Homo sapiens: one gene and its partners. The protein of the gene in region 3 interacts with the protein of the main gene of each other region in a biochemical or structural test. Each region holds a gene or a part of one and is shown on either strand. Other genes may lie near its edges.

Region 1 (5,764 bases), about 30 Mb from region 3:
TGTTAAGGGAAGAGCAATGAGTAGAACCTGGGTGACAGTCAACCCAGGAAGGCTTCCTGAGGGAGAGAAGGGTTGGGTCTGTTTTTTTCTACAACATGATGATGGATGTGAGGGTTACTCCTGACCCAGGGCTATTCATGAACCACTGATCTGAGTCCTCCGGTATCCCTGACCCCACCCACCTGAGACCTGTCCCTGCCCTTGCTCTGTTTCTTTTTCCTTTTCCTCTCCCCTGGGACTCTAGGGATCTAATGCAGAATCCCTTAGGGAGGGTCTCCTCTGCCTTCAGGAAATGCCAGAGCCCACTTTAGAGGGTTGTCTTTTCTGAGGGTTGGTCTGGGAACCGGTGTCCTGAGCTTACTGAGATAGAAATCATGGATTTTGAAAGAGTGTTGGGGGGTGATATACCACCTGCGCACAGGACTGCAGGGTCACTTAAGAAACTTGGTCTGGTTCCCTCCCCACCTGGTCCTTTGCGCCAAACATGGTGGATTGTCCCTGGAGCTGAGCTGGAGACCTTGTTTCTCATCAGTCAGGCTCTGGGGCAGAATTTGCCCCTGCTGCTCCGGGCCTGGCCTGCTGTCCCTCCCACACTTGCCATCAGCTTAGTTTGCCTTTCAGGACCTAGCTGGGCCCTCCATTCCTTGGGAGATGTCTGCACCCCATTCCCCTTTGCATTCTTTCCTGTGGAAGGGCATCTTCTGCCACACTGTGCTTGTTTTGTACTCTCCGCCGAGACAGGACCTCAGTGTCCCCATAAACGCTCAGCAGGTGTTTGGGGAAGGAATGCAGAATTGGGGCCTGTGGGGCTGGAATTGATGACCTAGATCTGTGCTCCTTCCTGCAGGCCCCTGGCTGTGTCTAGAGGCATGAAGACCATCGCCTGAGTTACTTTGGCCACTCTTCTTGCAGGCCCAGGGGAGAAATACCTGTCTCACCTGAGAAGTGCTGGGCTCCACAGGCATTGAGTACGAAGCAGGGGCACCCAGCCTGAGCCCTCCCTGCCCTCTCCTGCCCCCTTCTGGGGGTTTCTTCACCAGCTCTGCCTGCTCTGTCCTCATTTCCTTGGCCTCAGGGATGGACCTGTCAGGTCTGTTGGGACACACCCAGGGACTGAGCCCTTTCCTGTAAACATGACCAGGTTCCGCTCCCTCTAGGTTGCCCCATGTCCGCTAGGCTGCTTACAGCCTCTGCCTTTCCCCAGATGTGCTTACCCAAGTCCTGATACCTTTTGCTGCAAGGTCAGTTCAGCCTGGCTCCTGCTGTCCCCAAAGCACCCAAGGCTGTCCAGGGGCGCAGTTTCTGGGGAGGGGGCGACATTTCACGATCTTGCTGGTCAGCCTGTACATGATGTGGGAAGGAGGTCACCACTCAGGACTCCCTCACTGGACCAGGGGAAGGACCTGAAGTAATGCCCTGTGCCTCAGTTTCCCCATCTGTCAAATAGGGATAATTATACTTGTAATGTCCACATCACTAGGTTGCTGGGAATATCAAATGAGTCAGTGGATGCAAAATACTTTGAAAATATGATATGGTGCTTTGAGGCAGGTGCTGTTATGCTGGTCACATAGGATAGTACGTGGTGAATAATAGGTATTAACCAAGGGTGGATCCTTGGTTGAAAACTTGTCATGTCAGAAATGGCGTTGTTTTCCTAGATGGAGCTTGATTCATCTTTTGTCAAGGAAGTCAGACTGCATTTGTTTGATGAATTTATACCCTGCCTTCTTCCAGAAATGATTTAAGATGGCTGATTGTGATAAAGAGAATTTCTGCCTTGGATAAGGGAAGGGTCAAACTTAATTTTGTATTCATTTATCCCTCAATAAGTATTAATTGAACATGTAGTAGCTGCCAGGCCCTAGGGTTGTGAAAAGAAATGTGATTTCTTTTCTAAATGGTCTCCTGGTCCCAAAGAAAAGACAGACAATAAACAAGTGAATCATAACATAGCAGGGCAAATGCTGTGATGGGTAAGGATTTGGGTAGCATGGAGGAGAGAAGAACTAATTCTGCCTTGATGGGGTGAGGGCAGGTGGATCAGGGATGGACTTGGAGCAGATGATGCCTGAGCTGGATCAGGAATGGTGAGGAGGACATTACAGGGACAAAAGGCATTACAGGCAGGAATAGGAAGTGGATGCTGTCACATCACATCATGAGTCACTCAATCATTTGATACGCTGAATTACTATGTCTCTCTGTGGGGCTTAGTTTCCTCATCTGTACAATGGGCATTATAATAGTACATACGTCATTGGATTAGTGTGAGAATTAAATGATCAATGCAAATAAAGCAGCACTTAGAATAGTTCCCGGACATGGGAAAAGCTCAGTGAGTGTGAACTAGTATTTTGTCATGATTTGCTCTGATCAGTGATTGTGGCTGCTGTTATTGTGTGTGCTGGGCACTGTGCTGGGTCCCCAATGGCTCACATCCAGAGAGAGCTGGATTTATTTTGGAGGGTGAAAGACTCCCTGCTATGTTTATGCAATGGCTCATGCCCTTGTGCAATGCAGAGGGACCCCAAGCAGCCTCCATCTCCCAGGGCACGGTGGATCCCCAGCTTCACAGAACAGGAGAGCTGTGGAGGAGTGTGGGCAGCAGGGTAGGAATGGATTTAGCCCTCGGCAACAACACATGTCCCCACAAAACATTTTCTTCATCCATTCATGTGTTGAGGGACACTTGGGTTGCTTCCACCTTTTGGCTCTTGTAAATAATGCTGCTATGAACATGAATGTACAAACATCTGTTTGAATCCCTGCATTCAATTCTTTTGCATATATACCCAGGAGCAGAATGATGGATCATATGGTAATTCTGTGTTTATTTATTTGAGGAACAAACTTGCCGTTTTCCATAACAGCTGCACTATTTTACATTCCCACTAACAGTGCATTAGGCTTCCAATTCTCTATGCCCTCACCAACACTTGTTTTCTGGGTTTTAAAAGAAGTAGTAGTCATCCTTGTAGGTGTCAGGTGGTATCTCATTGTCGTTTTGCTTCATGTTTTCCTAAAGATTAGTAATTTTCATATGCTTATTGACCATTTGTATATCTTCTTCGGAGAAGTGTCTATTTGAGTCTTTTCCCCAATTTTTGATTGGTTTGTTTGTTTTTTGTTGTTGAGTTGTAGGGATTCTTTTATATTCTGGATATTAATCCCTTATCAGATATTTGTTTTACAAATATTTTCTTTGTAACAACAGAAACACACCACAGTCTTCAAGGTTGGAAGCCAGTTAATCTGAGTAGCATTTTGTTAGTGGTGGGGAGAGGATTTGTTCCTCCTGAAATCCTGGGGAATTGGCCACCTCCTCTTCTCCTCTTAGGCATGAAGCGCGTCTGGCTTCTCCAAAGAACTCTTCCCCTCCACTACCTCAGAGTTAGCTTCCTCTCTTCAGCCAGTGATCCTGGGGTCCCAGACACAATAATTAACCAAGAGAGGGTGAAAGGCTCCCTGCTGTGTTTATGCAATGGCTCAGGCCCTTGTGAAGTGCCGAGGGACCCCAAGCAGCCTCCATCTCCCAGGGCATGGTCCATCCCCAGCTTCACAGAACAGGAAAGCTGTGGAGGAGTGTGGGCAGCAGGGTAGGAATGGATATAGCCCTTGGCAACAACACATTTCCCCACAAAGCACCCACCCAAAAGAACAACAACGATAGTTTTAGTTTTTAGTAATGAGAACAATAGTTCTCATGACTAAAAGCCATCAGCCAGGACACGTGTTCTCAACCCTTTTGCGGTCTTTGGACCCTTTGAAACTCTGACAGAAGCCATGGAGGAATGTTCTCACTGAGTGCATGCACTCAAAATGATGCATTCAACTTCAATTCAGTTTCAGGGATGTATGGCCTGACCACCAATGCAGGGGATTAGCAATCGCAATAGTGGAGAGGGCATGGGAGTGGGAATCTGGCTGGATCAAGCAAGTGGATGCCAGCAGCCCAGAAAAAGAGCCCCCCTACCTGCTTTTTCCTTCTGGGCACTATTGCCCAGCAAATGCCTTCCTCTTTCCGCTTCTCCTACCTCCCCACCCAAAATTTTCATTCTGCACAGTGATTGCCACATTCACCTGGTTGAGAAACCAGAGACTGTAGCAACTCTGGCAGGGAGAAGCTGTCTCTGATGGCCTGAAGCTGTGGGCAGCTGGCCAAGCCTAACCGCTATAAAAAGGAGCTGCCTCTCAGCCCTGCATGTCTCTTGTCAGCTGTCTTTCAGAAGACCTGGTAAGTGGGACTGTCTGGGTTGGCCCCGCACTTTGGGCTTCTCTTGGGGAGGGTCAGGGAAGTGGAGCAGCCTTCCTGAGAGAGGAGAGAGAAAGCTCAGGGAGGTCTGGAGCAAAGATACTCCTGGAGGTGGGGAGTGAGGCAGGGATAAGGAAGGAGAGTATCCTCCAGCACCTTCCAGTGGGTAAGGGCACATTGTCTCCTAGGCTGGACTTTTCTTGAGCAGAGGGTGGGGTGGTAAGGAAAGTCTACGGGCCCCGTGTGTGTGCACATGTCTCTGTGTGAATGGACCCTTCCCCTTCCCACACGTGTATCCCTATCATCCCACCCTTCCCACCAGAGCCATAGCCATCTGCTGGTTTGGTTATTTGGAGAGTGCAGGCCAGGACAAGGCCATCGCTTGGGGCATGAATCCTCTGCGTACTGCCCTGGCCAGATGCAAATTCCCTGCCATGGGATTCCCCAGAAGGTTCTGTTTTTCAGGTGGGGCAAGTCCGTGGGCATCATGTTGACCGAGCTGGAGAAAGCCTTGAACTCTATCATCGACGTCTACCACAAGTACTCCCTGATAAAGGGGAATTTCCATGCCGTCTACAGGGATGACCTGAAGAAATTGCTAGAGACCGAGTGTCCTCAGTATATCAGGGTGAGGAGGGGCTGGGTGTGGCGGGGGCTCTCTGCCTGGTCCTGGGGCTGCCCTGGGCCAGCGGTCCTCCCTGCCACCCTTCATAGATGGCTATGCCTCGGCTCTCTCTGAGATCTTTAAACTCTGGCTTCTTCCTCCTCAATCTTGACAGAAAAAGGGTGCAGACGTCTGGTTCAAAGAGTTGGATATCAACACTGATGGTGCAGTTAACTTCCAGGAGTTCCTCATTCTGGTGATAAAGATGGGCGTGGCAGCCCACAAAAAAAGCCATGAAGAAAGCCACAAAGAGTAGCTGAGTTACTGGGCCCAGAGGCTGGGCCCCTGGACATGTACCTGCAGAATAATAAAGTCATCAATACCTCATGCCTCTCTCTTATGCTTTTGTGGAATGAGGTTCCTCGGTGTGGAGGGAGGGTTGGAAAACCCAAAGGAAGAAAAAGAAATCTATGTTATCCCACCCTACCTCTCACAAGCCTTTCCTGCTTTACCCCTCACCTGGCCTCTGCCCCACATTCCCTTCCAGCCCCTCCATCTTGAGCCATTGGATTTGAGGCTTAAGGATTCCAAAAAGTCCATGACACTATAGCTGATGATTTTACTAGTGGTTCTGAAATGGGTCGGGGATTTGGGAACAGGGTGGTAGTATAAGAACAACTGATACTGTTCTCTAAGCTAAATTTTAGCTTCCAGCTAAATGTCTTAGATGTGGCTCTTGGGAAATTAGAGTGATAGCTACATAGAAGTGTGTGGGTGTGTGTGTGTGTGTCTGTGTGTGTGTGTGTGAGAGAGAGACAGACAGAAAGAGAGCAAGAGAGGGAAGGGGGGAGAGGCTGATTGTGTGTGTGGTGTGATGTAGGTGGACAATGTTCAGAGTCCTCCAT
Region 2 (7,029 bases), on a different chromosome or scaffold from region 3:
CCCAGGATATCTCCAGGCCTCAGTTTTTTCAGCTGTGTAATGGGCACAATAGTAATGTGAGAATCACCTGAACTGTAAGGCACAAGAGATTAAAAAATGTCACTCTTCAGTCTGGGCACGGTGGCTCACACCTGTAATCCCAGCATTTTGGGAAGCCGAGGCAGGTGGATCACTTGGTCAGGAATTTGAGACCAGCCTGGCCAACATGGTGAAACCCTGTCTGTACCAAAACTACAAAAATTAGCTGGGTGTGGTGGCGCGCACCTGTAATCTCAGCTGCTCAGGAGGCTGAGGCACGAGAATCACTTGAGACCAGGAGGCAGAGGTTGCAGTGAGCCAAGATCGTGCCATTGCACTCCAGCCTGGGCGATAGAGTGAGACCCTGCCACATTAAAAAAAAAAAAAAGTCACTATTCATTTGGCATTCTCAACATGAGTCCAGCACAGGAGCTGGCACGCCACATCATTGGAACCTCAGAACCACCTGGGGAGAAGAGGCTAGTAGTTTCCCCATTAAAAAAACTGAGGCTCAGGGAAATTGCACCAGGACATAAAGTGGTGGTACTTTGTTGCACCCTAGGACTCCTAAACCTGCAAGGCAACCTCCCACAGACAGGAGGGTCAGGAACAGGTTTTTGCTGTGTTATTGGCTTCCTCACCAGGCTGGAAATGTGCTCAGGGCAGGGACACAGTGTTCCAGCCCCTACCATGGAGTGGACAAATAGTGGTGCCCAGGAAAAGTTGGGCCCAACACCACATTTCAAGGAAGGGAAAGCCACATCCAGAGAGACCCGAGGTTTTAGGTCCAGGAGAGACTGAACTGGGCCCGTCAGCCATGCTGGGACTGGTAGACGGGGAGAGCCTGTTTGGCGGTGCCTCCCGGCTCAGCTGTTTCCTCCTGTTCCTACAGGTCTGCAGGGAACTGGCCAGGCAAGGGGGCAGGCCCGTTTCTCCTGGTGGTTGGTGCGTTGTAGCAGCAGCGGGAGCCAGGACTAAGGACAAGCAGGAGCTGGGAGCCCCAGGTAGGACTGAGTTCTCTTAGGCAGATGGATGGTGCACCGGTGTAGCCTTCCTCTCTGGCCTCTTTGTCCTTTGCTGTGGAACTGGATGGGGTTGGGCATGCATGCAGAGTCCTTGATCTGGTTGTGGGCCCTGTGTGCCCAGGGGCCGCAGCTGTTTGCCCTGTCTATGAGGGGCTCTCTGCTCATGAGGAACTTCCTGCCTAACCTGGCTGTGGCCCCAGAATGCTCTCACCTTGGAGCTCAGAGGCCTGGGGCCTACCATTAATTTGGGGCAAAAAGTAGTAACGCTTTTTTGGTCAGTTAGAGAGGGTGGCTCATGGGCCAAAGATTGAGGGTGGGTGTGTCAGCTTTTCCATGGCCCTGTATCTGCCTCAAACTCACCTCATCATCACACAAGGACACTGAAATTCCCCGTGGGCCCCACAGTGGGTTGGACACTGCAGGGGGATGGAATGGGGTCTCCAGCTCCAGGTACAGCTGAGCTGTCTTCCACACCCCAGGCCCCTCCATTTTCCCCAGCTTCTCTGGAGCCCGAGCAGGGCTCAGTCCCTCTCTTCAGCTTCCAGATTCAAGGGGAGCTAGGCAGAGTCTGGAACAATGCTGGGAAGGCTGCAGTCTCTTTGAATCCCCTCAGAAAGCTAGAAATTCCTTGTTTTGGGGCGAGCCTTGCCTCCTTCAGCCCTATTACCATGAAAACATTGCTGTGGGTGACTCCATACTCATTCCAGGCTGGTGACTGGGTGACCGGGCCCCAGTGAACAGGGTACTGGTGGTGGGTATGGGTGCTAATGAAGCTGGAGCCTCGGAGTAACAGTGGGGGGATAGCAAAGACCGTCTTTCCTCCAGGAGTGCTCCCTGAGCAGACCCTCACAGCCAACCCTACTGGCTGTTACGCACCTATAGGTCTGTGAGTAGAGCCATAAAGGCTGGGCTTCCTGGGCCTGACTCTGGGTTGGGGGCAGAAGGGAGGTCAGGGCCTTCACTCTGGGGTAGGAGTTGGGACAGAACAGGAGCAGTCTTCACTGGGCCTTCTGTGTATTGGACCTGTCCCTAAACCTGGTGTGGAGGAAGTAAAGCGCCTTTGGCTGTCTAGGGGCCTCTGCCACCTAAGTTCTGAAGAGCCAGCCCTTTCCGTCACTCAGCCTTGTTTTGTAAGGAGTTTGATTAGTCTTGGAGACAGCCCACTGTAAACCCTCAGACATCACCCTCCAGCTGCACAGACATATGCGTGCTCACACAGGGATATGGCAAGCTAGGCTGCAGTGGGCATGCACACCCACAGACTCATGAGTTCCTGTACGTGCACCACACATGTGGGCATGCAGGTACACAGGTGCTCACATGCAGCCACCCATGGCACACTCACACACACACAGATGCTCTCCCAGTTACCGTTGGCATCCATGCACTCAAATGCCTGCCCACACATACCGCACTGTGCCCATTCTGGGGTCAGGAAGGGGTCCCTGGTCAGAGTTACAGCCCAGTCAGGTCGCCTGCATCTGGCACCTGAGGGGCAAGTTCCAGGTGTGGCTGTGATCTCAGTAAGGGGGGCTGGGCCACCCTGGTAGGTGGGCTCTGCCCATGCATTCAGCAGCCACCCTGCCCACCTGGCCCCAGGCTCCAGGCCGACCAGGGATTGGCATGGGAGATGGGAGGCATGAATGCGGGGGAGAGGCTGTGTCAGCTGTGCCAGCACTGTGTGCCTGCTGCTACAGCAGAGGAAGTAGGCTGTCTGGCCATGGGGCCAAGGTGCTCACAGTGGGTGGGGGTCCTATCAACTCCTGTGTCCCCCACGGTGTCCATGCCTAGAGGGAGTGGAGTTGCTGGGCTCTAGGGACTGAGAGGTTGGCAGGGGCTGTCTGTTCACTTCCCAAAGCCTGGGCCTAGGAGAGAGGCCCATCTGTTCAAGGCGTTTCCGGAGGCTTACTTCCTCTGAGCTGCCCAGGAAGTGGTTTTGGAGTGGGACTGACCAGCCCTCTGTCAGTGGCTCTACGCCTTGCTCCGCCCCTGCCTTGCCTGCCCAGGGGAGCAGCGTCTGGCCACCGGGTTAGGCTGACTGACCAGGCTTTTCACTGCCAGGGCTGCCCAGGCCTTTTTGGGGGGCTCTAGGAGAAGGGCAGGGGGCAGGTCACGAAGTCCCCTGCAGTCCCCACAACCGTGGCTCCTTTCTTGCTCTGAGCCTGTAAGCCGAGGCTCAAGAGCATCAACTCTGGTAGGCATGGCCCCCTTGAGAGAGGTGATGGCTGGGCTGCATCTTAGTGACTAGGCAGCTCCCAGCAGCTCTATGAATGAACCTGGGCAAGTGGCTCTGCCGCTCAGTGCCTCAGTCTCCCCCTGACAGATGAGATAATGATAGCATCCATCTTGATGAGGTTGTGCGGAAATGACAGATAACATATGCAAAGTAGCTGGCATCGTGCTTAGTGCATTGTCAGAGTTGAATGAGTAGAAACTGTAGTTATGTAAAGCATTTAGAGCCCAGTTCATGGGAACTATTCAAAAAATAGCAAGTGGGACTGATGAGGGGGTATTATTATCTGATGGGCTGGGCACTGGCCCAGTGTTACATGGCCAGGTGGCTGTGGAGCCTGGCTGAGGAGCCAGGTCTCTGACTCCCTCATCCCCCTCAATTCTACCTCCAGTGGCAGTGCCCTACTTGTTCAGTAGGTTCCATGCCCTCCGAGGAGAGGAGCTCCTGTTGGAGCAGCTCCACCCACTCAGCAGTCCAGCCCCTGCCTGCTCTTCTCCCCCTCACTCCCTTTCAAAGGGAGAAAATAGATCTCGTGACAAATGGATGCAGGGAGGGGAAAGGCAGTCTGCAGCTGCCTGCTGCCCCCTCAGGGCTCCCCTTGGCCCTCTCCAGCTCTGGCCTCCTGCAGGACATTAGGCTGGGAGAATTGGCTGGGAACGAGGGGGTGGACGTAAGCCCTCCTGCCAGCCTGCTTACCCTTCAGACCCCTGGAGTCAGCCTGTGGGCTGGGGCAGGGAGTGGGCATCTGGGACTGATGGAAGCTAGAAGAGTAGGGGGAGCTAGAAAACCCCCTACACCCATGGCAGCTGGGGGCAGGGCCCAGCCTGTCCCAGGGACACGAAGAAGGTCAGCACAGTTAGGGTTGGGCTAAGCATTGGCCTTCACTGTGTGGGGCCCAGAGGCTGGGGATGAGGAGTGTTGAGGAGTGGTAAGGACAGTGATGCAAACAGCAGGGGCCTGAGGGCTGGAGAGCGAAAGGTGGATGGGCCTGGGCGGGAAGTGTGGTTGAGGGTATCCTGAAGGCTTAGGAGCAGGACTTCTGCAGGCATCAGACAGACCCTGGTTGAATCCTTGCTCAATATTTACTGGCTGTGCACACTTGAGCCAGGGACTGGACCGTTCCCCACTTGCCTCGTCTGTGAAATGGGCAGATCACGGGGTGTGGTGTCCTGTGAGACATGAACGATGGGAAGGAGCCACTGTGTGGGGTGGGGTGGAGCAGGAAGACGGAACAGCAAGCCCAGAGGCTCCTAAGCGGGAAGGAACTGGCTGCTTCGGGAACTGAAAGGGGTCAGCGTGGCTGGGGCACAGGAATGAGGGAAAGGCAGCGCCTGCCCGAGAGGTCAGGGAGGTAACGGTGATGGGGAGGGGGGTGGCGGGGGGCAGGCTGCATGGAGCAGGCTGAGGGGAGGAGTCTGGGCTTGTCAGAGGGGCAATGGGAGGCACTGGGGGCTTGGGCAGGGGGTGACAAAATCTGTCTGAAAAGCCCCGTCTGGTGGCTGGAACAGGGGGACTGTCGGGCCGGGGTAGAGGATGGAGAGCAGTCAGAAGACAGGTGCAGAGCCTGGGGATGGTGGTGGTGGGAGAAGAGGATTTGAGACTTGAGGACAGGCTGCAGCGGCAGACGGGATGGCCTTATTGTGTGGGGAGCAGGGGGAGCTGTCTGGCCTGAGCCACTGCCTGAGCTCGTGCACTCCTAGTGGATGAGGAGCGCTGGGAGGGGAACGGCGGGGGACTGGTGTGGGCAGGCTTGAGCTCTTCTGGAGTCATTCATGTGGTGAAGCCAGGGAGGCAGGTGGGGCCACAAGCCTGAAGTTCAGGAGGGTCTGGGCCCAAAGTAGAGACGGGAGCCTAAAGCCAGGATTGGGGAGGAGAGGGCTCAACAGGCCTTCTAAGGGGTGGGGGAGCATTTGAGAGGCCCACGAACAGGACTGGGATGGCTGTCCCTCAAAGGTCTCTGCCAAGGCACCCAGGAGGGCAGGCTTGTGGTGGCTGAGCCGCTGTTTTCACAACAGCTCCGGAAGCTTTGGATCATGTCTATGGCCGTGTTGGGTAAACAGGCAGAGCAGAGCAGGCAGTCGCCAAGGCCTGAGGCTAGATCAGATGTCTGCGTGGTGTAGGTTGTGGGCTGGGGTTGTTGGGGTGGGAGGAGGATCCCAGGGTCCTCCAGTGTCAGGGCTGGAGAAAGCTTAGAGGTCTCCATTGTTGAGACAGGGAGGCTGGAGCCCCGGGAGGGGCAGTAGCTGGCCAGCCTCTGCCAGTGGACTCATGCTGCCTGCTTCAGCCCAGTTCTGCCCAGAGCCTCAGGCCAGAACAGGGCACCCTGCGGCTGGGGGGCTTAACAGAGCCTCTTTTCCCACTTTCCAAGGAAGTCTGGAAGACACCAGAGCACTTGGGCCAAGATCGCGGAGCACCCAGGCAGCAGATCTGAGCTAGGCCTGTCTAGGTCCAAGCTCGCCGGTTCCTCTGTCCGCTGCCTGCTGTGGGATGGCGCACCATGCGGGATGGTCCTGCCTCTCTCCCAGCTTTCTCAATATCCCCAAAGTGGGGAAGCATCATGTGGATCCTGCCCAGATCCTGGGGATGACTGGCAAAAGGGTTAGGTGGCCATCTTGCCTTCTCCCAAACACAAAACGATTGTTTCCAATGGTAAACCATCTGGAAAATCGTGGGAACTCTGTGGGAGAAAGAAGGGCTAAGGAGTAGGGCTCTTGTACTGGGGGCTGATGGAGGAGCTGTTCCCATCTCCAAACACATACCCTCACCCCATTGGAGGCCAGATGGGCAGTTCTAGGACTAGAGCTGGAAGTTCTCTCCCCACTTCCCCCTGGGTCTGCCCCATTGGCTTTGTGGCTTTGGTTGAATTGCTCAACCTCTCTTTCGGTTTCTGCACAGTGAGCCTGGAGCTCAAGGAACTTGCTCCTGGGGTGCCCGGCTTGCTGCCCTACCAACATAGGTTCAAGCCCTCCCCTCCCCCTGCGCGCCAGGCCTGTGACTGCCACCTGTGACCTTCAACCTCCACCATAGCCTCAGGGCCCTGCAGGCAGGTGGGCGGGCGGGCGGAGGCCTGCCCAGTGATGTGCCTGACCAGCCCACTCCTTCCCTTACACACTTTAGACTTTGCTCTGGATCAAGAGGGACTTTCTTCGTCTCCCTGGGTGGAAAGGCCCAGCCTAGCCTGACACCAGCTGCCCTTCTGCCCCTCCTCCATTCCCCAGCCATTGTGCCTGGGGGCTGTGGTGGAAAAAGCTGCATTTGGACTTCATGGTGCCAGACTCTAGTCAGGGATGTGGGGTCCTTCCAGGACTGTATGTTTGTTTCTGTGTCTGCCTGGAGCATCTCTGTGCCAGTGTGTACATCACAGCTTGTGGCACTCCACGTGCGTGTGGAGCCTATGTGGTCGGGTGTGGTCTGTGTGGGCCCGGGTATCTGTTGAGATGTGAGAGCCGGTGAGTGCATGTGTGTTTCTGTGTGTGTGTGTGTGTGTGTGTACGTGTGCCCCTGTGTCATCACAGCAGTGTGTGTACGTACCTGTGGCTCCAACTGTGTGCGTGTGTGTCTAATGTCGAGTGGGGCTCCCTATGTGCTGTTTGGGTTGGCGAGTGTGCCTGTGTGCACACGTGTGGTTATTCGTGGAGAGGCCCGGCTGCATCCCCCACCCTGGCTCCTCACAGAGGCCCCTTGTCCTCACAGGATCTGGCTCTCTGGCTCCTGCCATGAAGGGGCCTTTGTTCCTCTCTCAGGGGTACCTGG
Region 3 (7,298 bases):
CATGCAACAGTAGTTTGTAGTGTTAACCAATCATATGCAAATCTTGCTTATTTGGAATTTTGGAATAATTTTGAAAATATCGAGATGAAACTGAGTTACCCAACCAATGCCTCAACAAATTTTATTTAACAAGTAATGTTTATTGAACACCTGCTATATGCCAAGCCCTGTACTAGGTACCGAGAATCCAGTGGTGTGTGTGTCAGAACATTTTAAACCATAACTAATAGAAAACTTGATATGAATGACTTAAACAATAAACAAACTTATTATCTAACCAAACAAGAAATTCCAAGGTAGATCAGTTTCAGACTTGTAGAAAACGTTATTTTTATCTTTTAAGAGATGGAGTCTTGCTCAGTCACCTAGGCTGGAATGCAGTGGCGTGATCATCACTCACTGCAGCCTTTGAAGTCCTGAGCTCAAATGATCCTCCCACCTTAGCCTCCTGAGAAGCTGGGGCTACAGGCATGTGCCACCATGCCTGGCTAATTTTTAGTGTTTTTCTGTAGAGATGGGGTCTGGCTTCATTGCCCAGGCTGGTCTCTAACTCCTGACCTCAAGGGATCTTCCCACCTAAGTGTTGGGATTACAGATGTGAGCCATTGTGCCCAGCCAGATTTGCAGAAAACAGATAATGCAACACATCTCATCAGCATAACTAAGCATCTGAGCTCTTTGTAATTTTCCATTCTCTTTTCTTTCAGACAATGGCTTGTTCTTAGTTGTCTCCCCTCATGATTATAAGACAGCTGCCATATTCCAGACACATCTCACAATGCTGTCTAGTAGAGAAACAAGTGCTGTTTCTTCTCATGTGTTTTATTTTTTATCACTGGGGAAGAAATCTTTCCCAGAAATTCTTAGCAGACTTTCCCTCCTGAAGCGCATGGCTTCAGGAAACTGGAGGCTTGAACAGAACTGGGGTTCTACCAAAAGGAGGAAGGCGAATGGACAGTGGCTGAACAGACCGTCTACTAACAGCACCAAGTAATGATTAAATAGACTGCCCCTGCATTGAGGGACAGAAACAATGTCACAGATGACATACAGTTACAAACTGTAACAAATACATGATCAGAGAGAACCGTGCACATAGCAAGGTCATGGATCTAGAAAGGCCACTCATTGAGGAAGTGAAAGATGAGTAGGAACTAGCCAGGCAGGCTTGGGGGAAGAGTGTTACATGGGCGGAGGAAGAGGCTGGCTCATATGAAACCATGAAAGGAGGCCTGTGTAGCTGGAGTTCTTGGGAGAGGAGGAGGGGAAATGACCTGGAATGAGCACAGGGCAGCAGGCAGGGGGCTTCCTGCAGCATGGGAAGGAGTTCGGGTTATATCCTGAGAGCAGTGCAAAGCCATGGAAGGTTTAAAAACAGGGGCCATGAAGTGATCTGACTTGTGTTTTTAAAAGCTCAATCTGGATGGAGAGGCAAAGAAATGTTAAAAGACTATCATGTTCACCTGGGAGTTGATAGTGGCTTGGCCTGAGTGGTGACAGGAGAAGGGGAGGGAAAGTGGATGAAATGGAGCATGAATGGCTTTGCTAGTGCCCTGGGGGATACAAACATGGGTTAGCCCAGGACTTCCTCCTGAGGCACACTATTTGAGGTGCTAAGACTTGCATGCACATACATTGGTGAAGAGTGATTAAGGGCCACATGGGAGGTGCGGAGAAGGAGATGCAGGAGTTCAGAAGGCGAGATCATGGGTTTGAGCGCTTTCAGGCAGGACTGATTTCAGGGCAGTGTGTTAAGGAGAGTGCTATTTTAGCAGGCCTTCGAAGGCTATGCAAGGTGGGTTTGAAGGTGCAGACATGGGAGAGGGCAGCCTAGAAAGAGGAACTAGCACGAGTCGCACAGATGCAGGAATGAAGGCATAGCGGGAGAAGAGTAAGCAGCAGAGTTTGTATGGGATTGTGAAGGAAAGTTCTGGGGATAAGGCTAGAAAAGTCTTGGCAGTCAGATTAAGGAGAGTTCTGAGTGTCAGGGTGGGATAATAGGAGGGCAAAAACATTTTTTAAAAATGAAGTCTAATTTAGCTACAAATCCATTTGGTTTTCTCAGGAATAATTAATGTGCTATTCAAGTCCTGATTATTTATTCACTAGATGGAATAGCAATACCTCTTTCTGCCATCACTGCTACCTGCAGGTCATTTACCAATGATTTCTAATTTCTTTTAGAATGTATCCCTTCATCATGTATTGAGTATCTGTGCTAGAGATCCTAGAATGAAAAGGCATGGTCCCAACTTCCAAGGAGCCCATGAATTGAGCAGATAAAGAGATAAATTGCAGTAAGTATGATGCAAGTTTTTGGGTAAAGGTGGTACAAAGGAGAGGAAAATTCTCCTACTACCCAGAGTTCAGGGCTAGATTTAGCACAGTTGGTGACATTTAAACTGGGCTTTGAAAGATGAGTAGGAGTTTGCCAGGCAAAGAAGAGAGCTGGGAAGGCCTTGTAAACACAGGAAAACAATCTGGACAAAGACACACATGTCTTCTTAATTCTCACACCTTCAATCCTACAAGCACTGTGGAGTATACATTTTTAAGTTTTATTTTCAGGCTTTTAGGGGAAGCTTGGTGATAATGAGTGAATTCTTTCAGTTGCTACAAAACAAGAGTTTGCATCTAAGTATTTGACCCCCATAAACATGCATTTTACCTAAAAAGAAGCCTGGATTTTAGCAAGCCAAATTGGCTATACCCTTTACCCCCAGTTATTCCTCTGGGAGGTTTTACTGATTTTTACTTTTCTGGAAAAGCAAGGAAAGAACTCTTAAATCTGTTTTTTCAGAGACTAGTAAATCCATTAGTCATCAGTGCAGGACTTTCATCTCTTCAATTTTTCACTGGAAGATGGGAGAAGTCATAATTCACTGTCATGTGGCTCCCAATTTTGACATTTGCAGGAAATTGGTCCCCTCTGAACTTCATGAATGTTCATAAAAGTTATTTCGGCTGGGCACGGTGGCTCACTCCTGTAATCCCAGCACTTTGAGGGGAGGCCGAGGAGGCCGAATCACCTGAGGTCAGGAGTTCGAGACCATCAGCCTGGCCAACATGGTGAAACCCCATCTCTACTAAAAATACAAAAATTAGCAGGGCGTGGTGGCAGGCTTCTGTAATCCCAGCTACTCAGGAGGCTGAGGCAGGAGAATTGCTTGAACCCAGGAGGCAGAGGTTGCAATGAGCTGAGATCGTGTCACTGCATTCCAGCCTGGGCAACAAGAGTGAAACTCCGTCTCAAAAAAAAAAAAAAAAAAGTTATTTCAGGCCCAGATCAGATGGATCTCCAAAGATTATCCTGTCTCAAAAATTTGTTAATGATAATTTCAGCTCAAGATAAACACTAACATATTAATACAGCCTATGGGATTACAAAAAAGTGAGCAAGGAATTCATTCAAGACTGGAAAGAATTATCCTCTCATCTGACACTCCCATTTAACAAGGGTGTGGAAATCAAGGCCCAGTGACACAGGATTTTTTCTCCATCACTTTGTAAGCCAGGAACCTCTGGCTGGTGACACCCTGCCCAGGCCTCAGTGGGCCACACTACCTGCTGCAGGAGATGGCCTGCCCACTCGGCCTGGGTGGGGAGTTTTATTGAGTGATGAAAACAGCTTTCAGTGGAGAGGGGATGCAGGGGTGGTTCCCCTACCCAAAGGCAGGAAAGTCCCCCCAGTGCGGGTGAGTCTGGGGCTTTTATGGGCTCAGAATAGGGGAGGGGCAGGACATAGGTAGTACTGGAAAAGGCAACATTCAATTGGTTAAAAGGCATTAGTCAGAAATAATTAATTGGGAAAGAGCAGACAAACAGGAACAGAAGTTCTCACTCTAGGTCACGGGTTTCATTTGGGACCAGTAGCCTAGTCTTTCAGCCTTCAGGCTGTTTTTGGCTTGAAGGTGGGGTTTCACCAGGGACCTGCCCCTATCTGCCTAGGCATTTGGCTGCCTCCTGTCATTATCACCAGGGAGGTGCCTCTACCTGCCAAGGTTACCCTGGCTCTAGAAGCAGAACTTTGGCCAGAAGCTGCCACAGAACAGGGGTGGGAGAGAGAAGAGGAGCTGGGTGACAGAGCAGAAGCATTTTGGGGAACTGATCCTTCAGGCAGCAGCTGATGTACTTCCTCTCTCCTCCACACTCCACCCCTACTCGCCCTCTCTCTCTCTGCTTCTTTCCTTTTCTCTCTCATGGTAGGGTTATGAGTCAGTTGCCAAAAGGTGGGGACATTTCCTGATGCATTTGCAACACTGAGAAGTTATCTTAAGGGAGGCTGGGCCCCATTCTACTCATCTGGCCCAGAAAGTGAACACCTTGGGGGCCACTAAGGCAGCCCTGCTAGGGGAGACGCTCCAACCTGTCTTCTCTCTGTCTCCTGGCAGCTCTCTTGGCCTCCTAGTTTCTACCTAATCATGTCCCTGGTGGAGGCCATCAGCCTCTGGAATGAAGGGGTGCTGGCAGCGGACAAGAAGGACTGGAAGGGAGCCCTGGATGCCTTCAGTGCCGTCCAGGACCCCCACTCCCGGATTTGCTTCAACATTGGCTGCATGTACACTATCCTGAAGAACATGACTGAAGCAGAGAAGGTGAGTGGAGGTGCCTCTTTCCGGGCCTCCTCTGTGCATTTGTTATTATGATTCTCAACCCCATTGCATTTCGGAAACCTAACCTCTGGGGAGATTGAAAAGAACAAAAGTTGCCCAAGCTCCACCCCTAGACAGCCTGATTTAACTGGTCTGGGAGGGGCCCCAGGCAGCCAGTTTTAAAAGCTCTCCAGGTGGAGAGCAGGTGAGGGGCAGCCAGGGTTGCCTCTTTCTCCATCTTCTAAATTAAAATCATTCTACAAGTGTCTTTAACACCTTTGTGAAGGCTGTCCTAGTCGTACTTTCTTCTACACAGAACTCCTTCTGGGCACAGAATCTCTATCTATCCCAGCGCTTTACACCTGATTATTGATTCTAAGGCACCTCTTTTGGCTTTCCAAGACTTTCATGTGTGTCGACTTTGCCTGCTCAAGAGATTTAAGGGAGGCACTTACAAAAAATAGCTTTTATCCCAAGTGACAATTCTGATCAATTATAAAGGAGACTCTTTTAAAGATGCTGAGGCTGGCAAGAGGAAATTGTACTGTGATTGACTAGTGATGTCTGCTGGGGGCATGGTGTGGGATGTCTCGCATCTTTTTCGTTATGTTTTCTCACTCAAATACCATAGTATGGAGTTAAGCATTCTCGATAATTATTTTTTTGATTGGTTGTGGTAAGGTGGAAAGGGTATGGAGTTTGGAAGGAGAAGATCTAGGATCGAATCCTAGCCTCTGTCTCTCTCTGGACTTTTAGTCTTAAGCAAGCTATGTAGCCTATGTAGACATCTGGCTTTCAGCTTCCTGAGTTTCTAAATATCATGAAAATTAAGTGAGATGCCAAACTATTAATGTCTCGTGGAACTTCACACCACTGTATAAGAGTTAGTTATTATTTTTACCGATTACTGCCAGTCTTTGCAAGGTGTGGCAGTGGTTGACTCCCCAGGTCCCTTAAAGAATCAGTCCCTTCCACACTCCAACAGTAGGTAAACAAGCCTCAGCCACACCCTCCTGACAGGAAGACAGAGAAGTGACTGAAATGTTCTCACATAGCTTGACAAGTCAATCTCAGGCTCTAAGGCAGAGCATGGCAGGACCCCCCACCTCTGGCTGGAGGAAGGACATGGCCCCACCTCCTCTCAGGGGCCTGCTGAGGGGCTGAGTGAACAGCACCACACATTCTGAGGGCTGATGGACACAAAGTGCACATTGTCCAGGAGAAGAGATTGGCAGCTAGTCTGGGCACAGCTATGCCAGCAGGGACTGTAGCCTCCTGCCTTGGCCTGGATATGGGATCCTTGGCAAGGTTGTGTGGGCCACCACTCACTTCTCAGCTCCCAGGCCTTCAGGCCCACATGTCTCTGTTTCTCCTGGCATTCCTCTGCTTCTAGCCTTCTCATTCCTTCTGCCTTTCTTTGTTTTCCTGCTTGAGCCCTTCCTACTAGCATTTATATGCATTCTTATTCATTATCATTTTAATTGTATACTATTCATGTATAAGTTTGTATAGTAAACAAATATAACAATTTATATAATATTTTAATTATTTTCATTTGCAATAAATTTTATTATTTATTTAAACTGAATGTTCAATACATTCATAGGAATACAAGAAATGCAACAAGGGTTAAAATTTCATTATTACATTAGATATCATTTTTTCTTTCTTTTTTTTTTTTTTTGAGATGGAGTCTCACTCTGTCACCCAGGCTGGAGTGCAGTGGTGCAATCTCGGCTCACTGCAACCTCTGCCTCCTGGGTTCAAGTGATTCTCCTGCCTCAGCCTCCCAAGTAGCTGGGATTACAGGCATGCACCACCAAGCCCGTCTAATGATGTTTCATTTTTCAAAGAAGCTTCTCCTATTTCCCTATCTTTTTTATCTTCCACAGAGCAATAAATAGTAATTACTACTCTCCTGGACAAGGTGCTCTGTTGTGTTGGATAGGAATTGTATCTTTAAGTTTGACATCATTATCACCTCCAAAAACTCTACCTTCACTTCATAGCACAGTCTCGCTGCATTGTTTCACAGTAAAATTGTACTCTACTCAAACTAGGAGAACTCAAAGAAATTAGAGCAAACAGCAGTTAAATTCATATGAATGAAAGACAGAAGACCAAAGATTTTAAAGTACTGATTTAGTAACATAGTGTCTACTGGCTCAAAGCTTCTATCTAATCATATTAAATCATATTATTAAAACAGCGATAATAGAAATGAAAGCTACACTAATGAAAAAGGAACTTGGGAATGAGGTCATTAAATATAACTAACTATATTTTAAATATAGATATGTATTTTTTATTAGTATCAGGTAAATGTCTAAATTATCTATTCTGAATTCTAGTCTCAGAGAAGGTCAGAGACAGTTACAAAGAAGGCGCTTCATATTGTCAAGTCCATTTTTAAAATGATGAGCTCCTTTGGGAAAATGCTTTAGTGTTTCTTTTCTTCTAAGATTTCTGTTGGTGATAATCCATTAGTGTCTGCACCCTTATAGTCCACTTTGTCTTTATTTGTATCATTGGATTTTTTTTTTTTTTTTTTTTTTTTTTTTTTGAGACAGGGTGCCTTACTTTGTTGCCCAGGCTGGAGTGCAGTGGTGCCGTCACAGCTCACGGCAGTCTCCACCTCCTGGGCTTGAGCGATTGACCTACCTCAGTCCCCCAAGTAGCTGGGACCACAGGCATGTGCCACCACAT
Region 4 (6,861 bases), 3.2 Mb from region 3:
AAAACATGTTTTAACAATGCATCTCATGAATGAGGGAGAAGCATGTTACAAAACAGCATGAACAGTGTGATCACAATTTTGTAAAACTACATGTATGTATAGAAACATATCTAGACATATAAACATGTATATACATGAACTTCTTGTCTGTCTCTTTGCTGATGCATACTGGGTACTCAATAGATATTTGTTGATTGAATTAATGATTGAATTACATTTTAAAAGTACCTTGGGGGAAATAATAGGTAATATTTTCTTTTTCTTCCTTGCAATTTTCTATATTTAATGAAATTTTAAGCAGTGAGTGTGATTTATCTTTATAATAAACAATAGTGTTATAAAAACTAATCATTCTGGGAAATGTCATTAGGAATTTTGGAATAAAAGTAGTAAATATAGACACCCCACAATCCAATAAAAAATAACTTGCATCTGATTTTCTTATTATGTTTCACTTACTGCATTCGGCAATAAAAGCAACAGATGTTACAGAAAAATGTCAAGCGTAATATTGTACAGTTAATTATTATTGGGGTTGAGTCTAGAACCTAGGTCACCTGGTTTCAGGCAAGCAGTTTTTTCCATTATACCAAGTTGCTTGGAGTTCTAGAATACCAATGAATAAATGACTATGTGGGTGCTACAATATCCACTGTTAGTTCCTTACTTATAAGTAAAATGATTTTATAATTAATCATTTTATATTATCAGAAAACTCCAAAGTTTTAAGAAATACTGCATTTTCATGTAATATGAATTGTCTTTGGGGATTTGTGAACTTCTTAAAGGTGTTTTTAAATTTGTGTGTGTTGGAATGGCATAATGTGCATTATTCTAGGGAGGGGTCCATACCTGTCACAAGATTATAAAAGTGTCTTTGATGGAACAAAAACAAAAGAAAGAAAAAGAAAAGAAAGAAAAAGTAAGAAAGAAAGAAAAAGAAAGAAAGAAAGAAAGAAAGAAAGAAAGAAAGAAAGAAAGAAAGAAAGAAAGAAAGAAAGCAAGCAAGCAAGCAAGCAAGCTATACAATCTGGAGCAAGAAGGAGGAAAAAACTGATGGTAAATAAAAGCAAACAAGATGAATGGGAACCACAACTAATTCTGTCTTCCTCTTTTTTATTCCTGGAACATAATTTTAATATGTAGATGATTCGATTTTATGACTGCTTTCTAAGTACCAGCACTAGAAAAGATAATGGGTTAAAAACATAAGCCAAATAACCTCTATGGAATGAACATTTTCAGTTGCTAAAAATCTATTTAATAATTTTTCTTTTCCTAATTAAATGTAAATGCAAAAATGCAAAACACTTCAGAATAACTTACTTTTTTTTTTTTTTTTTTTTTTTTGAGACAGAGCTTCGCTGTTTTCGCTCAGGCAGGAGTGCAATGGCGCGATCTTGGCTCACTGCAACCTCCACCTCCTGGGTTCAAGCGATTCTCATGCCTCAGCCTCCCAAGTAGCTGGGATTACAGGCACCTGCCACCACGTCCGGCTAGTTTTTCTATTTTTAGTAGAGATGGGGTTTCACCACGTTGGCCAGGCTGGTCTCGAACTCCTGCCCTCAAGTGATCCACCCGCCTCGGCCTCCCAAAGTGCTGGTATTACGGGCATGAGCCACTGCGCCCAGCCAGAATAACTTACTTTTTAAAAATATGTTAAAAAGATGCAATGTCTTATCTCAAAAAATATGCTTCCCCTAAGGGAAGTTTGTAAAACTCCTTTGAGCAAATGCACATTAAACACTTCTCTATGCATTTCACAATTATTGCTTAATTTAAAATTTAACTCTTCCGGAGCTAATGAAAGAAGTAAATACCTGTTTCTTATCCCAACCTCTAACTTGATTGGCAAGGTGTAGGAACCTGTAGAATGTAACTTTAAAATTCTTAACAGAGCTTGTTTCACTACAGTCCTCTACAAATATCCCTTGAGCCACAATTCTAAATTTAAACAACAAAGAGAAACAAAAATACAAATCTTCTTTGAACTCAAATTATATTGGCAAATATAACTTTAGAATTGACACCCATTCAGACAGTACGCCTCTAATACTCTCCATCTGCCTTAGCTGAATAAATGCTGACATCATCAACCCATATGAGGAGTATTTCTTGTTCTGGTTTTGGAGGTGAATTTATTTTTAAGACTAAAATGATTATAAATTGTAGGAGACAGATACATTCATCCACTGATACTTTAAAATCAAATACCTTTTTTTTCTGTTTTTTTTGGAAACAAAATTACTGAAATATCCACACTCAAAATTTAACTATGTAATTTGATCAAATCTTTTCTAGTATCTAGTTTTGAGATTTTTTTTTTCTCTTGGCAAGCCAAGTAACTTAGGGGAAGGGTGGATCATCAGAACACCAGTCCGTTTACAGTTAATTTTTCAATAATCCTCTTTCTTTCGCATAATTCTGCAAAATATTGACTAGCCAGGAAAGCGTCCCATAAGTAACAAAAATGACCAATTTTTAGAAATTAAAAGTTAAGTGAGTCAACAAAGTCTCTCGCTAAAGATCGCTAGGGCTGTCAAACAGCACAGCATGCTGCTGCTCAAGTTTGGGGATCAGTAACCATTGGGTGTCATCACGTGGAACGCTAATAAGCGCCACCTCACCGCCGTTTTGAATGCTAACTTTCTGGGATTCCAACCCAAAGAAACACCTTAATCTTTGACTCCACAGTGCATTTAGATCCAGGAAGGCAAATCTGCGTGGGTTTGAAGAAAATTGAGGTCCCTAATCTGTGTTTCACTTCAAAAGGCAGAGGACATGCTGACTTTTTAAAGCAGCGAGGTTTCCCCTCCGTCCTTTCTTCCTTCCAAGTAAACTACCAAGTAAAAGCTAAGGAGGGTGGGAGAGAGAAGTGGAGCAGAGGAAGAATAAATATATTGCTTACAGTTCCCAGAGTTACCTGAGAATCTTCAGGCTCCTCAATGCCTCTAGCTTTCAGTCAGGATCCTTTTTCAGCTCCGGACTTAGAGAAAGTCTTATCCTGAGTAGGAGGGGCTAAAATGTGGGCTGGTCTCCTTGCGCTTTTGCAGATGTTTTAAGGTGGAATTAAAGGGGAAGAGGGAGAACGCTCTCTTCTCATAGAAGCTAATATTGTAAATGTAAATGCTTAGTTATTAGAACCAGGAGTTTGAAGTCAGAAAATATGCTTAAATAATATGTAAATTAATCAGTCCTAAATTCCATGAGTGCTGTTGTGGATTTCTGTGTGTGTGATGTGTGTGTGTGTGTGTGTGTGTGTGCGTGCGCGCGTCTGAAATTGCTACTTGTCCTTAAGTAGTAACTACTTCCTCCTTTTTTCCAAAGGAGAACAAAATTGAAAAGACAGTGAATAACCTAGAGCATTTTTGCATTATTTAAAAAGGCAAAGTTTATAACAAACCCCAAATATAAAAATGTACATTTTTAAAAAATGAGTATCAGACCACTTTAAAAATCAAATCTGTTTAAATATTTCCACTCCAGACTCAGAACACCTGTGTTGATAATAATTTCTTTGTAAATTTAAGATTAAAGGCATACCAAATAATGTAATATATATGTTGAGATTTAGGGAAGAAAATGAAATCAGGTTGAATTCCAAATTTGCAGTGTAAATCCAAATACCTTATAGCACTGTAATGAAGAAGGTGCATTGTTTAAATGTACCCAAATTCCATGAGAATCAATTCATGTCTTTAAAGATTGACATGTTCATTTAGTATATCTTGTTTTTCAAACACAGGATCTTGTTTTTGCCTTTAATTAAATACTGAACTCACTCTCCTAACTCTCTTACAATATTTTCAAAGAATATAATTTCACTAAATCTTCTGGAATATCTGCTTTCTGTAGCCCAACATTCAACTCTTATTTGTTTTTATTTTTTTCCCCTAAATTCAACCTGGCATATTATAAATCTCTCTTTGAAAAAAAAAAAAGCCAGTAATGTCTTTTTTAGGAAGGATAGATTTATAATAAACATTTTTCGGGCTGGGCACGGTGGCTCACGCCTGTAATCCCAGCACTTTGGGAGGCCAAGGCGGGCGGATCACGAGGTCAGGAGATCGAGACTATCCTGGCTAACACGGTGAAACCCCCGTCTCTACTAAAAATACAAAAAATTAGCCGGGTGTGGTGGCGGGCGCCTGTAGTCCCAGCTACTTGGGAGGCTGAGGCAGGAGAATGGCGTGAACCCGGGAGGCAGAGCTTGCAGTGAGCCAAGATTGCGCCATTGCACTCCCGCCTGGGCCACAGAGCGAGACTCCGTCTCAAAAAAAAAAAAAAAAAAAAAAAAAAAAAAAAAAAAAAAAAAAAAAAAAAATTTCTCTTTCCAAAGAAATCCCTGAATTTCTAGAAAGGAGGTGTATGTTAATTAGAGGAGCAGAGAGCACACTGGTAGTTTTCATCTCTTTCCCCCAGACACAACTGGTGAAAGAAAGAATCTATACTGCAGGGCATGTTCGTTCTAAGACTCTGATAAAAAAGACTCCCTGGAAAAGCAGCTTCACAGTGCTTGCTTATAGAGCACAAAAAAAGTGCTCTAGTGCTTTTTTGATAACAAAAAGTTATAGCTCTCAATATTTCCAGATGATATCCAATAGTGTGTCATGCATTAAAGATAAAAAATTTATTTAAACGCTTTTAAAGAAAATGTCATTATATGTCATGGTTAGGGTTAATATATACGGGGAGAAGTTTGTCTCTTTCCCGCCTTACTAAATGAAGCTGATTTATCTCCACCTTTATAATGAATAAAGGCTGCTGCAGGTATGTCTTTTCCTCTCTGGAATCAGTGCAGACCAAATCCCATTTACCCATTTTGTGGTTCTATGGCCTCCTTATCTCATCTATTTTGGCTCACTACTTGTGATCTCACTGTTCACATAGACCCCTAGGTGGATAGTACAAGTTCAGATTTGCCGTCTTCACTTTGCCCAATTTCCTCCAAAAATATTTTCAGCATTGACCTACTGACTTCAAAAACCTCTGCTTCCACCTTAGGTAAGATAGGCCCTGACTTCCATAGCGTGCTTCAGTCTATAGGATCAATTATGTCTGAAGACCCCTCTCCACTTGGTTTGTCCATCAACAAAGATTAGTCATCTGGGACCCATCTGAAACTGAGAAATATCATAGCAGCTTCTTTGAATCCAATTCTACCATTTGCACTATTTCCAGCTAATAAGTTTCATGCAGTTTGCTAGTAATTTTCCACATCTTTAAAATTTTAGAAAGAGAATAATAAGCTAAGAACTAGATAAGTAATCAAAAGGAACAACCCCAAAACTGGCCAAATTAACTAACAAAGAACACCTACTTGTCAAAAGCCATGGCTCAAAAACCCCAGGGGGTTGGGAGGGGGAACCCTGATGTTTGTATGATTGATTTTTCTTTCTTTCTTTTTTTTAATTTTACTTTAAGTTCTAGGGTACATGTGCACAACGTGCAGGTTTGTTACATAGGTATACATGTGCCATGCTGGTTTACTGCACCCATTAACTCGTCATTTACATTAGGTATTTCTCCTGATGCTATCCCTCCCCCTGCCCCTCATCCCACGACAGGCCCCCGTGTGTGATGTTCCCCGCCCTGTGTCCAAGTGTTCTCATTGTTCAATTACCACCTATGAGTGAGAACATGGGGTGTTTGGTTTTCTGTGCTTGTGATAGTTTGTTCAGAATGATGGTTTCCAGGTTCATCCATGTCCCTGCAAAGGACATGAACTCATCATTTTTATGGCTGCATAGTATTCCGTGGGGTATATGTGTCACATTTTCTTAATCCAGTCTATCATTGATGGACATTTGGGTTGGTTCCAAGTTTTTGCTATTGTGAATAGTGCCACAATAAACATACATGTGCATGTGCCTTTATAGTAGCACAATTTATAATCCTTTGGGTATATACCCAGTAATGGGATGGCTGAATCAAATGGTATTTCTAGTTCTAGGTCCTTGAGGAATTGCCACACTGTCTTCCACAATGGTTGAACTAGTTTACATTCCCACCAACACTGTAAAAATGTTCCTATTTCTCCACATCCTCTCCAGCATCTGTTGTTTCCTGACTTTTTAATGATCGCCATTCTAACTGGTGTGAGATGGTATCTCATTGTGGTTTTGATTTGCATTTCTCTGATGACCAGTGATGATGAGCATTTTTTCATGTGTCTGTTGGCTGCATAAATGTCTTCTTTTGAATGATTTTTCTTTCTTTATGTGGAGTTGTTTTCTGTTATCTTTTTTACTATTTCCAATTCACCTATCTTCTGCTCTAACTATATGAAACTGCTTTGTTTCTGATAAACTTGAGCAGGGTAATGAGGTAGTATATGAGAATTAAATCTGGATAGAAAATGAAGATGATTAGCCAGCATAGGGTACTAAGAGAGAGTTGAATAGGGAATCTAATCCAGATTGCAGGTAAAATCAGAAAATGGCTACCAATCAACTAATTTACTTATAATAATGTATCCTTCTATTCCACAGGCTATGCTTGAGTCTTCTGGTCCAACTGTATTTATAGTAAAATAATAAGTTGATATTTTTGCTACTTATTTGTATCTGTGAATATAATTAACATGAATCATTTCTCTTTTTAGGTATTAACAAAATCAATCAGGTTAGTAAAATAGCAAGTCACAGAAAATGATTTTCTCACCTTGTCAAGTTTTCTGGCATCCCACTAATTGACCTCTACCTTTCATTCAAACTAAGAGACTATTCTCCTTGCACATCGTTTCCCTAAATTCCACTAGAATAATCCTACTCAACCTGCAAGGCTTAGCTCAAGTACTATCTTGTCTGGAAAATTTCCCTACCCTTTTCCCTGTCCAGCAGAATTCATTATTCTACTTGT

The links.
Region 1: the proteins of NCF2 (region 3) and S100A8 form a complex in vitro, tested with the Homo sapiens proteins (one study listed by BioGRID).
Region 2: of the proteins of NCF2 (region 3) and PRKCD, one has a biochemical effect on the other in vitro, tested with the Homo sapiens proteins (one study listed by IntAct).
Region 4: the proteins of NCF2 (region 3) and PLA2G4A form a complex in vitro, tested with the Homo sapiens proteins (one study listed by BioGRID).

The regions. Positions count from the first base shown.
Region 1 is NC_000001.11:153,389,514-153,395,277, reverse strand, and holds S100A8 (protein S100-A8), read left to right. Parts: upstream 1-4,237; intron 4,238-4,301; exon of another isoform or gene 4,302-4,421; intron 4,422-4,703; coding exon of another isoform or gene 4,704-4,742; coding exon 4,743-4,883; intron 4,884-5,034; coding exon 5,035-5,175; 3' UTR 5,176-5,246; downstream 5,247-5,764. UniProt on the Homo sapiens protein: S100A8 is a calcium- and zinc-binding protein which plays a prominent role in the regulation of inflammatory processes and immune response. It can induce neutrophil chemotaxis and adhesion.
Region 2 is NC_000003.12:53,164,194-53,171,222, forward strand, and holds part of PRKCD (protein kinase C delta type), read left to right. Parts: exon of another isoform or gene 1-910; 5' UTR 911-1,022; intron 1,023-4,509; exon of another isoform or gene 4,510-4,589; coding exon of another isoform or gene 4,590-4,627; intron 4,628-7,029.
Region 3 is NC_000001.11:183,587,453-183,594,750, reverse strand, and holds the start of NCF2 (neutrophil cytosol factor 2), read left to right. Parts: upstream 1-4,291; 5' UTR 4,292-4,421; coding exon 4,422-4,595; intron 4,596-7,298. UniProt on the Homo sapiens protein: Subunit of the phagocyte NADPH oxidase complex that mediates the transfer of electrons from cytosolic NADPH to O2 to produce the superoxide anion (O2(-)).
Region 4 is NC_000001.11:186,825,098-186,831,958, reverse strand, and holds the start of PLA2G4A (cytosolic phospholipase A2), read right to left. Parts: upstream 3,011-6,861; 5' UTR 2,924-3,010; exon of another isoform or gene 2,909-2,923; intron 1-2,908. UniProt on the Homo sapiens protein: Has primarily calcium-dependent phospholipase and lysophospholipase activities, with a major role in membrane lipid remodeling and biosynthesis of lipid mediators of the inflammatory response.